Homo sapiens: one gene and its partner. The protein of the gene in region 2 interacts with the protein of the main gene of each other region in a biochemical or structural test. Each region holds a gene or a part of one and is shown on either strand. Other genes may lie near its edges.

Region 1 (7,464 bases), on a different chromosome or scaffold from region 2:
AGTTAAGTTGGAAAAGCCTAGACCATTACAAAAACTATTTGTTCCAATTAAAAATCATTGATTAAATCATCCTACTAGGATATTGATTGTAATGCTAAACAAACAAAAAGTCACACAGTTGAACAGTGAAGGCAAGTATCTTAGAAAGAGTCAAATATACTTGTAGCATGAAGAAGAATAAGACTGTTGCAATACCTCTATCAAATACTTTTCTCCATTCCAAAAAAAACCCTGACATTAAAAAAACAATAATAAAGTAGGTCACAAAAAGATTGGAAGTACCACCTTTCTTCAGATATGATTTCTCAGTATAGCCGGCTACAAGTTTTCATCAAATGCAAGCATGGTGACACAATCAAGGAAACATTCCCATTTTGGAATCTTTTTGGAAGCTTCAGAAAACATTAACACTTTCAAAATGGTAAAGTTTCTTTACCAAAAAACTTCTCCTGAAGAAACCTCAGTATTCTGTAGGCAGACAGTACACCTTACTGCCAGACAACACATCTGATATTGGGGCACTGGTAAAGACAGAAGCTCTCCATGTCATGGTCACCCACTGCTCTCTTCATCAGTATGCGCTAGGGTGCAAGACTGTCATCAATCCTGAAAGAAATCTTATCTCTTGTTGTGAAAGTATTCTACTGTTTCAAGTGCCAACCCTTGAATAATTCCCTGTGTAAGATGATTTGTCATGAAAAATCCACTATTGTGAAAGCTGCCAGATTCATGAAAGCCAAGACTTTCAATCAAGAGCTTCTCGAGAGGTTTTGTCAAGAAATGGGAGCACTATGAAGTTCTTTGCTATATATAAGTTCCCTGCTTTCAGAAGACAAATTCTACAGCCTGATACTGCTGTTTACAGGATAACATACACTCTTTTTAAACAGTTTAACTCTTCAACCTTGAAAGTAAAATGTGGAGTCATAATCTTTTCTTTCCTAACACAGCATTAATGATACAGATCTTGCCAAAAATGATCTCAGTAACTTGAAGGCAAAGAAAATGATGAAACATGAATTTATCTGAAGAGCCTTGGAGAATTCTTATTTCTTGACACGTCTACTTTCATCAGGCAATAGAATCTACAGATTCCATTTACTCTTCTTTCTTTTGTAAAATAGCATTTTCAGCACTTTTTACCAAAGTCAACACTGATTGGATATCAAAGATCATATAAAAGTTGCAAAGTCAAAGTCAAAGAGCATAGTTTCAACTTGTTATTTTAAAAGTTAAATAGCAGTCTTTTCATTAAAATTTAGTATTGAACAGAACTAAAGCTTAATTTTGGTTAATTTGTACCACTTAGATTTATTCATTGCTCTCATGTAGTAGCCACTGGTTTTTGCATAAAAAAGTGACATAGTTTTCATGAAGGTTCTTTTACATTCTGTCTAAAAGAATATATTTCAATGTAATAAAAACTGCAAAATTTTATGTACACTATGCACATTTTTTGAGGGGAGAACATTTATACCTTCCATCAGACTTTAAAAGGAATGTAACACAATTTAAGACCCCCTGGCTTAAATCTAGTGTTCTGCGCCTCCACATTACAAAATTTTTCTATTTTATTACAAAAAATTTTTTACCTTTTTTTCCACTACCAAAATATATGCTGCTCATCAACTCTGTTTTAAATTTCTACCATCGCTTTTGCTACTGCATTTTTTTTTTTTTTTGAGATGGAGTCTCCCTCTATCACCAGGCTGGAGTGCAGTGGCACAGTCTCGGCTCACTGCAACCTCCACCTCCCGGGTTCAAGCGATTCTCCTGCCTCAGCATCCTGAGTAGCTGGGATTACAGGCACGCGCCACCACACCCAGCTAATTTTTGTATTTTTAGTAGAGATGAGGTTTCACCATGTTGGTTGGCCAGGATGGTCTCGATCTCTTGACCTTGTGATCCGCCCGCCTCGGCCTCCCAAAGTACTGGGATTACAGGCGTGAGCCGCTGTGCCCAGCCTGCATTTTTAATCAGTAAAAGCAATTGTTTCCCTGCAGATGATAATGGGATAAATCAAAGTAAAAATCTTTAGATCCTCAGCTCTATAATTCATGCCAGTGCTATCATTCCAAGGTGCAAACAATATGCAGAAATGTAAGGCAATCTACCATAATCTTCAACATTCACCAAAATTATGCACTAATGTAAGATTCAATTTTGTAAACTATCAACAATAAACAGTATTTCGGCATCCTTATATATAATGCAAAAAAAGTCACAAAGGATAGGAAACAAGATATAAGAGGGGGTAAAGGAACAAGGAATCTATGCAATTACACAGCTTTAAATGATTAATACGATCATTCTATTTCTGTTTTACAGCTGAATTAAGAAGAAATTAGATTAACATGAAGGAGAACTCTCTAAATGAGTTTTTCTATCTATCTGGAGGGGCTTAGGCTTTGTCCTTCTTAGAGATGGAAAAATGTACAAAATCTCTTTGCATTAAATTTTAACATGTTTTGCCATACTTACCACCCAAAGAAATATATCAACAGCAAAATTAAATCACTGTAAAAGTTCTCCCAAGAGTTTTCTTTTTTCTTTCAGATGTACTATAAGAATTAAATTTGTCACTGATTTTTCAATATAGTCCTTAGTTTTCTGATCAAAGAATCGAGAATCTTCTATTAATCTAACTACATTTATGAATATTCTTATAAAAGAATAATTTTTATGGATTATAAAAGTTCACACTTTACTAGGTAATGGTATTTTATCCAAAGGCATTCTATGCTCAAACAAGCTTCAGAAATATAAAGCTTATTTTTGATTAATATGCTTTTTAAAAATGTTATTTTAGAAGAATTTTGTGAGACCAAATCTGCAATACAGTTAATGGGTAACATGTGCTAGTATGATATGAAAATGGTAGCGTGAACAGAAAAATGAAATCAATCAGTCATTTCTCATATAGAAATTGAGGCAGCAACTGATTTAAAAATTTAGAAGAAATAAGGATTAGCAACTATCTTTAAAACCTGTTTTCCAGGGACTGAGGGTGGGGAGGGAGGAACACAAGATGAACAAGATCTGAAGCTCTACTGGACAGCATAGTGACTATAGTTAATAATAACATTGTATAATTGAAAATTGTAGCTTGTAGATCTTAAATGCTTTCACCCTGGGGGGAGAATAATAATTATGTGAGGTGATGAATATGTTAAGTAGTTTGACTGTAGTAATCATTTCACAATGTATATACACATACATCAAAACATCATATTATACATTGTATTTATATATAATTTTTACTTGTCAATTACACCTCAATAAAACTGAAGGAAAAAAAGAAACCCAAAATCTGTTTTCCAATAAATTCTCAGATCCAGGAAGAGGAAAGGAAAAACATCAAAAAATAACTTACCTTTTTGTCTCTGGTCCTTACTTCCCCATAGAAATCTAGGGCCTCTTGTGCCTTTAAAAATTTGCCCCGATGTAATAAATATGCACATATCATTACACCAGTTCGTCCCTTTCCAGCTTTACAGTGAATTGCTGCAACATGATTGTCATCTTCACTTAGCCATTGGTCAAGATCTTCACAAAAGGGTTTGATAAGTTCTAGCTGTGGTGGGTTATGGTCTTCAAAAGGATATTGTGCAACTGTGGTAAAAAGATAACCTCAGAATAAGAAAAAAAAACTCTTGAATTTTTAATTAACAAGTAGGTAACTTTAGAAATGTTGCATACAAACTTAACAGGTATTTAAAAGAAACACTGGATTCCAGAGAAAAATAATGTATTGCTTAACTTTCTAATTGTTAAATAGAAAATAGTCTCTTGATAAGTCTTAAATATAATCATTAAGGAAGCCAGGTATTATTTTCCCCCATTTTATTCAGGAGGATATATTCTGGGAATTTACGCTATACGGACTGGTAGCATAGGTCACATATTAGAGGTAGAGCTAAACCCAAAATGAACTGTCACATGGACATTTCGTCAGGACTCTCAATGCAAAAGGAATAATACTATTTATAGTATTTATTTCATCATCACAAAACATATTCCAAAGACAGAATAGATTACTAATAGGATAAACTATGCAAAGAACTACATATTACATTTCATAAAATAAAAATGCTAAGTGTGTTATTTAAAGGTGGTCTTGCAAATGTTAGTGTTGTATACACATGTAATCATTAGGGAAGCCAAGTATTATTTTCCTCCATTTTCTGCAGGAGAATACATTCTGGGAATCTATGCTCAATGGACTGCAGCATAGGTCACATACCAGAGATATGTGAAGGCATACACCAAAGAAATTACTCACAAAATGTATATAATTGTTATCAAAGTTTCAGGTCTTCTCACATGAATTGTAAGAGTCCAAGACTTCTCTGTTCACTATAGTCAGAGTTGAGGTTTTTAAAAAAACTTGTTTAGAAACAGGACTATAGATATATCACTATTAATTGCTCTTAATAGTTTCTACCTTAGTTCCACTCTATTAAGATCCTTAAAAACCCTGGCTGATATTCAATGTACTAACCTGTGTCATCTAAATATGTGAGAAGTATGTCTTATATCTCCAATCAGGTGACTCATAATATGGTACAGGATATAATCAATTATCCTTTGGTGTGACAGGAGAGATCTTCTGGTAGACAATGACTATCATTATAAGGAGTCAGCAGGACAGCTTTCACTTAGTCATCTGCCTAACTTCATTTTCCCAGTGGTACACAAAAACCTCCAGGAAAATCTGTTAAATATCTGTTTAAAGCAAGATAAACCTCAACTAAAGCCTGCTTTGCTTAGTAAGCAACAGCCTAAATCCACCAAAAACAAAAACAAAAAAAACCCGTTCTTAGTAAACCTATACTAAATCTCAATCATTAGTGATTTAGAATTTTCAAACCATTTGTCTGAAAGTCCATTCTAGATTTTCAGGAGGGATCAATGGCAAATACATCAATAGTAGCTCATGGCACCCACTTTCTTTTTGACTATCACAGCAGCATCTGCCAAGCTTCTCAACTCTTCAGTTTTCTCATGGTTTAAAGTGTTAAGCCATGAGAACTGAGTTGTATTTCACAAATAAAAGTGAAAGTTTTTGTGGGCTCTGAGAATTAACTTATGTCTGAAGTAGAAACTCATTTAAAGCAGTTCCCTCCTCTCATCCATCAGACTCCTCTTATCAACATTTGTTATATCCTTTCCTACCTTTTATGTCATTCCTCAACACAGAAGAGTTAAGTAGTTCTGCTTTCTCCCTGTGATTGCTTACTATTAGACCAACTGCCTCAAATAGTAGGTAAACCCTCTCCTTATACTATTTTTAGTCTAGGAATTTTCCTAATTCTTAGTCTATGCTGCACTTTAGTCTTCCTGACAATATTAATAGCTTTATGCAATACTTTTTCCTAAAACACAACAGTAAAATTAAAATTTTTGAAATTTTTAAAGATAATTCTTAAATATGTATCTCACTCGATAATCTGGATGACTCATTATTGTTATGACAGTAAGATACAGTCTATCGGGTTTAAGTTATACAACATAGTACAGTACATTCATACCTACCTCTGCAATTAAATTTGGCGGTGTCATAATGTCTTTCAGCACAACTAAAAGAAAAGTTTAAAAGTGATATAAAGTTATCTTTTGCACTTAGGAAGAAAAAAAAGTACTAATACTAACAAACATTGCCTGAATCTTTATAATGTGACACATATTATGCTGTGTTTAACATTAATTATTTCATGTAATAACAAGAATTCTATTAAGTAGATACTGTTATCACCCCCATATTATAATAATAAAACCAAAGCTTAAAAGATTAAGTGTATGCAATTAGAGCTAATACATTTGCTTAAAAACTTGTGATGCCACTAATACAGAGTACTGTAAATTCAGGTGCTTCCATGCTTTCAAATTTCCTCTATGAAAAATCTGCATGCTATTGGAATATATTTTTAATTTTACAAGTACCTATAAACAACTGACTAGTTTCAATAGTATCTGTATCTCATAGTTAAGCATACATAATTCTCAAACTATTCTTCAAAAAGATATATGTTAAAAATAGTAAAAGCATAAGGACAGTAAAGAAAAACTGAATGTTGTTAATCTACTTGGCCAAATGCTTACTAATTTTTTTTTAAACCAGACCTTACTCCCTGTTGAAAAGCCAACGATCACCTTTTTCAACAGTCTCTCAGATTGCAAGTTTTAATTACAGTATGAGAGTAATGAAAGAATAAGTAAAATCAATACAGAATAGTAAAATGCTGACTTGTCATTACTAGAGTATGCTAATATTTGTCTTAATAGCAGTGATATGTTAGTATGTACTGGCTTTCTAATGATTAACAGGCCATGTTTACAAACAATAAAAGGCTCAGAAAGAGATCTTACATATCAGTGTGGTTAGCAGTACCCTGGTAACTCCAACTACTATGCAAAACAAATTTTTTAAAAATTACTTAAAATAAACTCTTAGCATTTTAAAACAAATAAAGGTCCATAGCTCCTTAACCTGCAATTTCAATATCCCAAAAGTTCAAAACATCTAAAATTTTCTCTTAAGTTTTATGGCAAACTCAACTACAGCAAATCCTGATCTGAAGTAATAAGATTGTACATAATATTTAATACACTTAGAGCGAAGAGTAAAACATTTCATTTCAGGTACTGACCCACACCCCACTGGGGTGTTTATGTAAAAGTATATTTATCTGTGCTACCTTTTGAAAACTAAAATTTCTGAAAATGGAAACATACTTGGCCCCAAGAGTTTCAAATAAGTGATTGTGAACCTGTATTGTACATTTAGAAACCCTGAAAAACATCTATATAGTTTCTTCTCTACCTTAAAGGTAATTCAAAACCAAATTCACATGAAGGTTTAACTAATTATAAATAAACTACAATCCATTGGTTTCTAACTGGTCAGACCTAAAATAAAACAACTTTCATACTACCACTCAAAACAAAACAAGCTTTTCCTTTTTAGTACAATTTAGTATATTGAGTTTTTCTAGAAAGAAAATGCATTTAGTAATGACATATGCACATATATGCATCCTTGCTAGTAATTTCATACCCACTGACATGAAAAACAGGAAAAAGAGGACTGACAAGACAGTCACATTTTACACTTTCTTTGGTACTTTTAAGATAAAAGGGGAGAAATTGTCAATAGTGAAGAATTCATAATGGAATATTTTATAAGGAATCAGAGATGTAGGACTAGGAAACACAATCTAAGAAGCTGGTCTCAGGACAACACAACAGAAAATAAACATTAGTTTTGTGCAGCTTCAGTTCTCTAAACTTCCCCTACTTTCTCAGGATCCCAGAACATGTGGTTTGACGAACACTCCTTAAGACTGCTTTAATAAAAATGCCTCTCAAATATTACTGTTAAGAGGACTATATGGACGGAAAGTGGAAGTAATGACTACTAAGTGTCAACCAGATGAACACACCTTACAAAGAGTTTCCACTTTT
Region 2 (7,928 bases):
AAAATATAGCTCTGAACAGCTGTATATCATGCACTCACAAATGGAAAAACTGAAACAAAATGGTGAGACACCTGCTCTTCCAATGAGTTACATGTAATTTTGTCTTTCAGGAGTGAAAGACCAGTTCACTGACATCAGGTTACAAACTTGCTTCCCAGCTGCTGGCTCTCATTTCCTGTCACCACTCCCATTTCCTTAATATCTAGAATCTGAAATCAGCACAGAGCCAGTTAATGTTTTCCAACAGATCCCATTCCTGAAGAAAGAAATGTTGAATCAGGAAAGGAGAAATCAATCTGATACAACAGTGACTGAACACTTCTATCTAACTTTTCAGTCTGCTGGAAAGATTAAAGGCTTTAAAAATAATTACTCTCATTATACATATTACTCCTTGTCTTAAATGAGTTAAAGAGTTTGAAGAAGAATAGAAACAGTTCTGAAAAAGTAAGTCTATCATAATCAAGTATGCTTTATAAGGCACTCAGAATGGTGACCAGAACACAGTAAGCACCTAATAAATGATAGTGTTATTTTCATATTTTTAGTAATTTATTATTTAATAAGTCATTGTGATTCCTCACAAAGTCCTTATGTAGCAGAGTTGAGCTATCTGCCCAAGATCACAGAGCCCATGGCAGAGAGGGGCAGGAATCAAAGCTGGAAGCTGGGCAGTCTGACTGCATGCTATACTCTTGCCACAGTGCTTTTGTTTCCCAAGTGTGGCTAACGGGAGAAACGTAACTAAGGAAAAAAGAGTATTTTATCACTGAGACACTGTTATAATAGCAGAGGCAAAGAGAGGCCAATGGATTTGCCAATAAATAATAAAGCAAGACTTTTTTTGCCTGTGTGTGGGGTGGGGAAGGGGAGGGGAGGGGGAAAATATAACATACACACATGCCAGAGAAACCTTCATCTTTTGTTGGTCACTAAGATACAGCTTTGAACACATAACAAAACAGAGAAGGAGAGGACTATGAAACAAGAGCACTTGCATCACCTATAACAGGGGGCTCAACTGACAGGCTGGGCTCTCGCTGCGTCCTTGTGAGCCAGCTGCCATGATGACACCCGCTCTCCGCCCGCTGTGCCAGGGTTCCCAGGAGAGCAGATGTGGCTGCTGTGCATGTTCCCCGACTCCACTTAGAAACCTTACTCCTTAGTCCCTTTTTCATTAACGAGGGAGCTCGAAACTTTGGGGGAAAAAAGCACTGTACAATCTGATTAAAAAATAGCCAGGGAAGGACACACTACAAAATAACCGGCCTGTAAGATCAAACACGTCAATGTCATTCATGAAACAAACTGATCCAGACTTTTAAAATGTGACAACTGAATGTAACACATGACTACAGCTGAATATCATCATGTAATCTGGGATTTTCCTTTGCTATAAAGAACATTATAAGGATAGCTGGCAAATGTGAATGAGAGCTGTAGATTAGGTAACAGCAATGCATCAATGGTTACCTTCTAATTTTTTAATATGGCATTGTAGGGTTATGTAAGAAACTATTTTTAGGAAATGCATACCAAAGTATTTAGGGATGACTACGATTTACTCTCAAGCACGTCAGGAAGAAATACATAACATAAATGTCATTATATAGGTGTGTGTATATGTACACAAATGTGTGTGTATATGAGAGAGAAAGAGAAGGATAAAACAAATGTTAACATTTGAGGAGTCTGGGTGAAACAGATATGGGAATTCCTGCAACTTTTTTTAAGTCCAAAATTATGTTAAGAAGTTAAAAGAAAAATAAAAACTGGCTTTTTTTTTTTTTTTTTTTGAGACGGAGTCTCACTCCGTGGCCCAGGCTGGAGCACAGTGGCGCAATCTCAGCTCACTGCAAGCTCCGCCTCCCAGGTTCAAACAATTCTCCTGCCTCAGCCTCCCAAGTAACTGGGACTACAGGTGTGTGCCACCACGCCCAGCTAATTTTTTTGTATTTTTAGTAGAGACGGGGTCTCACCATGTTGGCCAGGGTGATCTCGTCCTGACCTCAGGTGATCCGCCTGCCTCAGCCTCCCAAAGTGCTGGGATTACAGGCATGAGCAACTGCGCCCGGCCAAAGCTGGCTATCTTATACTTATAAATTCAGCCAATGCTACCAGTTTAGTCAATGCCTTTCGATATAAGAAAATTCTAGATTTGTCATCCAATACTGGAAAGCAGCTATAGATCTATAAGAGTGGTAACAGAGAGGAAAAAAACCCACAGCCAGAGGCCTATATCCACCAAAAACCCTCTTCTAATTCTAACAGTACTCCTAACTCCTTACAGGCACAACCCATTAGTTGCCTTTATGACGCTGCCCCATGTAAAGTCTTGCATTGGTCTCCGGTTATTCAGCAACAGGTCAGGCCTGGACAACCCAGTTAAGATGAACCTCCCTCTCAATACATCTAAAGGTATCTGGCATAGCAACTGAAGCATATTTTGCTGCCCACCAGGTGTCTAACTTAAACTTCCCAAACTAGAGACTGGGAATAGCAGGGCAACTCTGAAGGTGGCACAAAGGAGTCCCAAGTCACAAAGGCAGCTAGAGTCCTCACATGCAAACAAAATACCAAGAAATGATAAAAAAGGAAGGTGACAGACCCACAGTCCAGGACACTTCCCTCCAAACCATCAAAAACTAAGCTACAGGTAGATCCCTTCAGCCTCAGTTTATTCCTCTGAACTGGAGAGATGCTCGAGAAACTAAACCAATGAGCTCTGAGGAGCTGAAAGTGATCCTTTTAATGTGAATCAGAGATAAAAAGTTAGGATTTATGAGGGAGGATTGTTGGTATCCTAAGGAAAATAAACCTAGTTTTACAGAAATAAGGATGCCTTGACTCTCCTGTCCAGAGCCTGTAGCCATTCACCACCAGTTACACAAAATGGAGAAAATACATATATTTCCACAACGATCTCACAGTTTCACTCTGCATGCTAGAAGAAGTCTCCGTCTGGGGTTCATTTATTCCAATTCAGAGACTATCTGTTTAAAAGATTCAAACTCAATCAGTTTAGCTATTGTCCAAACCAATAAAAAAATTTTTTTTTAACTTGAAATCTAGTAGACAAAGTGGTGAAAAAAAGAACAACTGAACTGACAAATTCAAGACAGGCAGGAACATATCTACAGCTCCTAGCTCTCAAATTTGGGGTTACTTTTACTCTACTACCAAACTAACAAGTGCTCCACCAAGATATTAATTTCATCACCTGCAATGAACAATGGTTGCCAAGAATGTAGAAGGACAGAGTAAAAAGAAAGTTCAGCCTGGATGATGGCACGTAATTCACTACCCTGGTGGCATCCCTAAAACTCACTGCACTTGACCTATATAAAAATATTATCTGAGCAATGTTATTTCATCACAGAAAACTTTTCCTCTAATCTTTCAAGTTTCATCACCCCAATTACATGATCTACTCCTTGAGGGTAACTGTTTACTCTCAGGAGTTAAAAAAAATTATTTAAAAAGGCAAGGCATAAATTCAAAATGATAATCAGATACTATCTCACACAAGTCAGGATAGCTGCTATCAAAAAAACCAGAAAAGAAGTGTTGGCAAGGATGTGGAGAAACAGCCACACTTGTACACTGCAGTCAGAATGTAAAATGGTATAGCCACTATGGAAAGTTCCTCAAAACATTAATCATAGAATTACCTTATGATCCAGCAATTCCACTTCTGGGTCTATACCCAAAAGAAGTGAAGCAGGGTCTTCAGGAGATATTTGTACACTCATATTCAAAGCAGCATTATTCACAATAGCTAAAACATGGAAGCAACCCATCCACTGATGGATGAATGGCTAACAAAATGTGGTATATACATACAATGGAAAATTATGTAGCCTTAAAATGGAAGGAAATTCTGATGCATGCAACAGTGATAAACTTGGAGGACATTATGCTGTGCAAAATAATCCAGCCACAAAAGGATAAATACTGTACAATTCCACTTATATGAGATACCTGGAGTAGTCAAATTCATAGAAACAGTAAGACGGTTGTTGCCAGGAAATGGGGGAGGGAGAAATAGGTAGTTACTGTTTAATGGATAGAGTTTCCATTTTACAAGATGAAGAGTTATGGAGATGGACGGCAGTGATGGTTGCACAACATTACCCACTGAACTGTACACTTAAGAATGGTTAAGATGGTAAATTTTATGTTATTTTATTTTATTTTTTTTTAGACGAGTTTCACTTTTGTTGCCCAGGCTGGAGTGCAATGGTGCAATCTCGGCCAACTGCAACCTCTGCCTCCCGGGTTCAAGCAATTCTCCTGCCTTAGCTTCCTGAGTAGCTGGGATTACAGGCACCCGCCACCATGGCCAACTAATTTTTTGTATTTTTAGTAGAGACGGAGTTTCACCAGGTTGGCCAGGCTGGTCTCGAACTCCTGACGTCAGGTGATCTGCCCACCTCGGCCTACCAAAGGGCTGGGATTACAGGCGTGAGGCACCGCGCCTAGCCTATGTTACATGTATTTTAACACAATTTTTTTTTAAAGGCAAGGCATAGAGCAGACCCTTTGAATCTCATTAGGAGAACACTACAACCCTTTCTACTATTGGTTCTGCCTCTAACATCACTCGCATGACCCAAATGTAATATTGTTATTACTACTATACTTTATTGATCTCTCAGGCCAGGCACTGTTTTAAGCACATTTAACCGTCTTAGATGAGCACTATTAACAGTTTTACTTGAGGAAGGACACCAAGGCACAGAGAACTTAAGTAACTGTTTGACGTCACAGAGCGTCTACAGTTGGAGCTAACACCTGAAACCAGGCAGACCACTTCCTAGGCCATACTCTCTCAGGAAAGAAAAGCATTTTGTAGATTACTAAAACATGACAATCAATCTCTCTACCCATCTATCTATAGTTTATCTGACTTTCCTAACAATCCTGTGACTTAAGCAGGAAATGTATGCTTATTTCATAGATGAGAAAACAGTCAAGTGGGTATCAATGAAGAAACTAGTTCTGGAACTCAAGCCTTCTGCCCTCTCATTTACAGCACTTCCTACACTACACCACCCTGATGATGAGATGGTAGATCCTGAAATTAAACTCTAGAAACTATCTGGAGCCCTGCTTTATACATGAAAATGGGCACACTATATCAAGATATTCTTTTCACATGTGGTTTGCTCTCAAATAAACTCATATATTAAAGGGATAAAACTATTAAACTATTAATCCCGAAATCTGCCAAGTGATCATGCTGAGACTTGGAGGAACTCTATGGGTTAAAAAAAAAAAAAACCATAAAAACACTATTTACTGAGGCTTCAAGAGAATAAAGCAGCATTTCATTGAAGCATTAAACATGCTGCTGTGGATACTAATCATAGAGAACGCCTGCCTGGGTCCCTATAGCCCTCGAGGACTCTTGGATTCCACACTTCAACTAGCAACTTACCAAAGTCAAACACTTCCTTTGAGAAAAATAACTCCAAAAATCATTAGAAACGAATTAACTTCATTTGACTCCTGGTGAGTGTTCCTCAATTCTTCCAGTACAGATCAGGACATCACAAAGTCAAACATCCAGCTAATGTCCTAATTATGCTCCTCGCATCTACCAAGACTTCATGACAGGTACACAAGGTCCTACACCGAGTGCTTCCACCCCCTGACTACATGACGCTGAGCATATACATCCTTTCTCTGGGTCTTGGTTGATTTGTAAAAAGGGCCTGGGTTCTAATGGTTTCTAGGTTTCTAAGTGCCCGCATTCTGCGATTCTGTTTGACACAGGTTAACTACACTCTTAATCTGTGACTCCCCAGTACAATGCTGGAAACGGCCTAGTTCACATATAATTTTTAACATTATTTTTAATGTTAGCAATACTTTAGTGATACTGTTTGCACTACTTTTATACCATGAGACATTAGTGAAAATCAGAATGTACCAAAAACTTAGATAAATACCACTAATGTGTTGTTTCAGGAAGATGTCTTCATACACATGCCTAAATTTAGGAGGGTAAAAAACCTACCACAGGAGAAATAAAGAGGAAATAAAGAGGAAAGCACCATTCTGATATAATATAAAGATCACCAGCTCACGATGAAGCTACTAACAAAGATGTATAACCAATGCCCATCCTTTTAACACTACCTACTGACAACACAGAACTTAAAAAATATCTGCAAGTATGCTAAACATGCTTAAAGAGCAAAATTTTAATACCACCACCCTTTGTTTAAAGCTAAATAATTAATATCTAGGGGAAAATGGATAGTCAATCTGTTTATAAAATAAGACCTCTAAGAGGAAGCCTTATATGGGAATTTCCAAGTCATTTTGCACTGGTTCAAAATGCTGTTTTTTAAAAATAGTGTTGCTCTTAACTTTTATTCAAGAAATAGCAGTTTAATTTGAAAGATCCCAAGGACCCCAAGAAGTACTGAAATCTACACACACAGGCAGTATTCATAAAATGCTAAAAGTTGTCAAAGGTGGCCACTTTTACTTCTGTGTACACTTTTCTAAGAGGTACTACAAAGGAAATGAAGAACTGATTTTTCAAAATCAAAAGATGAAACTTTTGGCACTAATGTAGCTTTCTGCCCTGCCATATAAACGCTTACCATTTTCCTCCTCCTTTTTCTCTTTTCTCCTCAAAACAATTTGTCAAAAAAAGATACAACCTCTCTATTGATTGGAAAGTTTTAAGATTTTAGCCACAGAATACCACTTGGGGATAGACAGTAAAATTTTGCTCACCAGTTTCTAAATTCCTAAAACTTTTTAGCAGCTCATTTTTGATCAATACCTGGAAATCCACTAATGCAAATTAAATGATATAAAATTCCTCTGTAGTCACTCATCATCCACCCATTCTCACATATATTGCAAAGAACTGATACGAAACGTTACTGACTACAAAAGTAAGACCACTTGTCCTCAAGAAAGCCACCCTCTATCTTGGTCACTATGTGCATAATACAATCCTGCAGCTAAAATACAGCAGGCTTTTACAAAAAGGAAGGCTGTTCTAGATTCTTCCAAGTTATGAGGAGCTGGTAGTCTGTTAAGGACCTAATTTCCTATGACCAAGCACCACAATAGTAGCTATTAGTCATAACTTCAACTTATTTGAATAAAGAAACACAACTTTGGCTAAAGACCTTGTTACCCTGTTCTTTTTAAAAAGTAATACTTTTAATTCACAAAACAACAAAACCACAATAATGCCATTAGTGATATATTACCCCATCCTTCAGACAGGAACAAAATCTGGATAGAAATGCCACCGGGCTTTAAAAAACATAAAGAAGTGAGTCTAATTTTCACTAGTGGTTTAGGCTGCACTGTGAAAACAAACAACATCAAGAAGAAACAAGAAACATTTCATTAACTAGGGGCCTCCCAAGTCTGATTCCAGGACACTGGTACCTGTTTCTGTGCTCAACGTTCAGATCCTACAATCCAGTGCTAAAATGAACAGTAAGAGATATGAAGAAATAGGAAACAGGAGTTCTGGCTAATGGTCATTCAACATAATGACATTAGGTAAGTTTCTTTGTGCCTAGGTCTCCCATTTGTAAAGATAACCTGCAGCAGCTTACATACTGGGTTTCCTAACATACGCCAAGAATCTTTAAAGTAGGGGGAAAGCTAGAGCCTATAAAGCTCTTTGGATGATGAAGCAGCAATGCGATGCTCTCCTAAATGAACATGCTGGTATTTATACACACACCTGAATGCTGTTCCTTTAAAAAAAAAAAAGCACCACAGAAAATCATACACTTATTCTAAAAATGCTGCCATAGCACAAAAGTTCAGACATTTTTCTGGAATTGCTTTAGAGTCAGCAATTCATTCTTCTGAATATACAGCAGTGGAATATGGATATTCCTAATTTCAATTTACGTTTTGCTTATTTCTTAGATTTGAAG

What was found.
Region 1: the proteins of CSNK2A2 (region 2) and PTEN form a complex in vitro, tested with the Homo sapiens proteins (2 studies listed by BioGRID, with this or other methods).

What each region holds. Positions count from the first base shown.
Region 1 is NC_000010.11:87,929,161-87,936,624, reverse strand, and holds part of PTEN (phosphatidylinositol 3,4,5-trisphosphate 3-phosphatase and dual-specificity protein phosphatase PTEN), read right to left. Parts: intron 5,580-7,464; coding exon 5,536-5,579; intron 3,613-5,535; coding exon 3,374-3,612; intron 1-3,373. UniProt on the Homo sapiens protein: Dual-specificity protein phosphatase, dephosphorylating tyrosine-, serine- and threonine-phosphorylated proteins.
Region 2 is NC_000016.10:58,187,179-58,195,106, forward strand, and holds part of CSNK2A2 (casein kinase II subunit alpha'), read right to left. Parts: intron 1-7,928.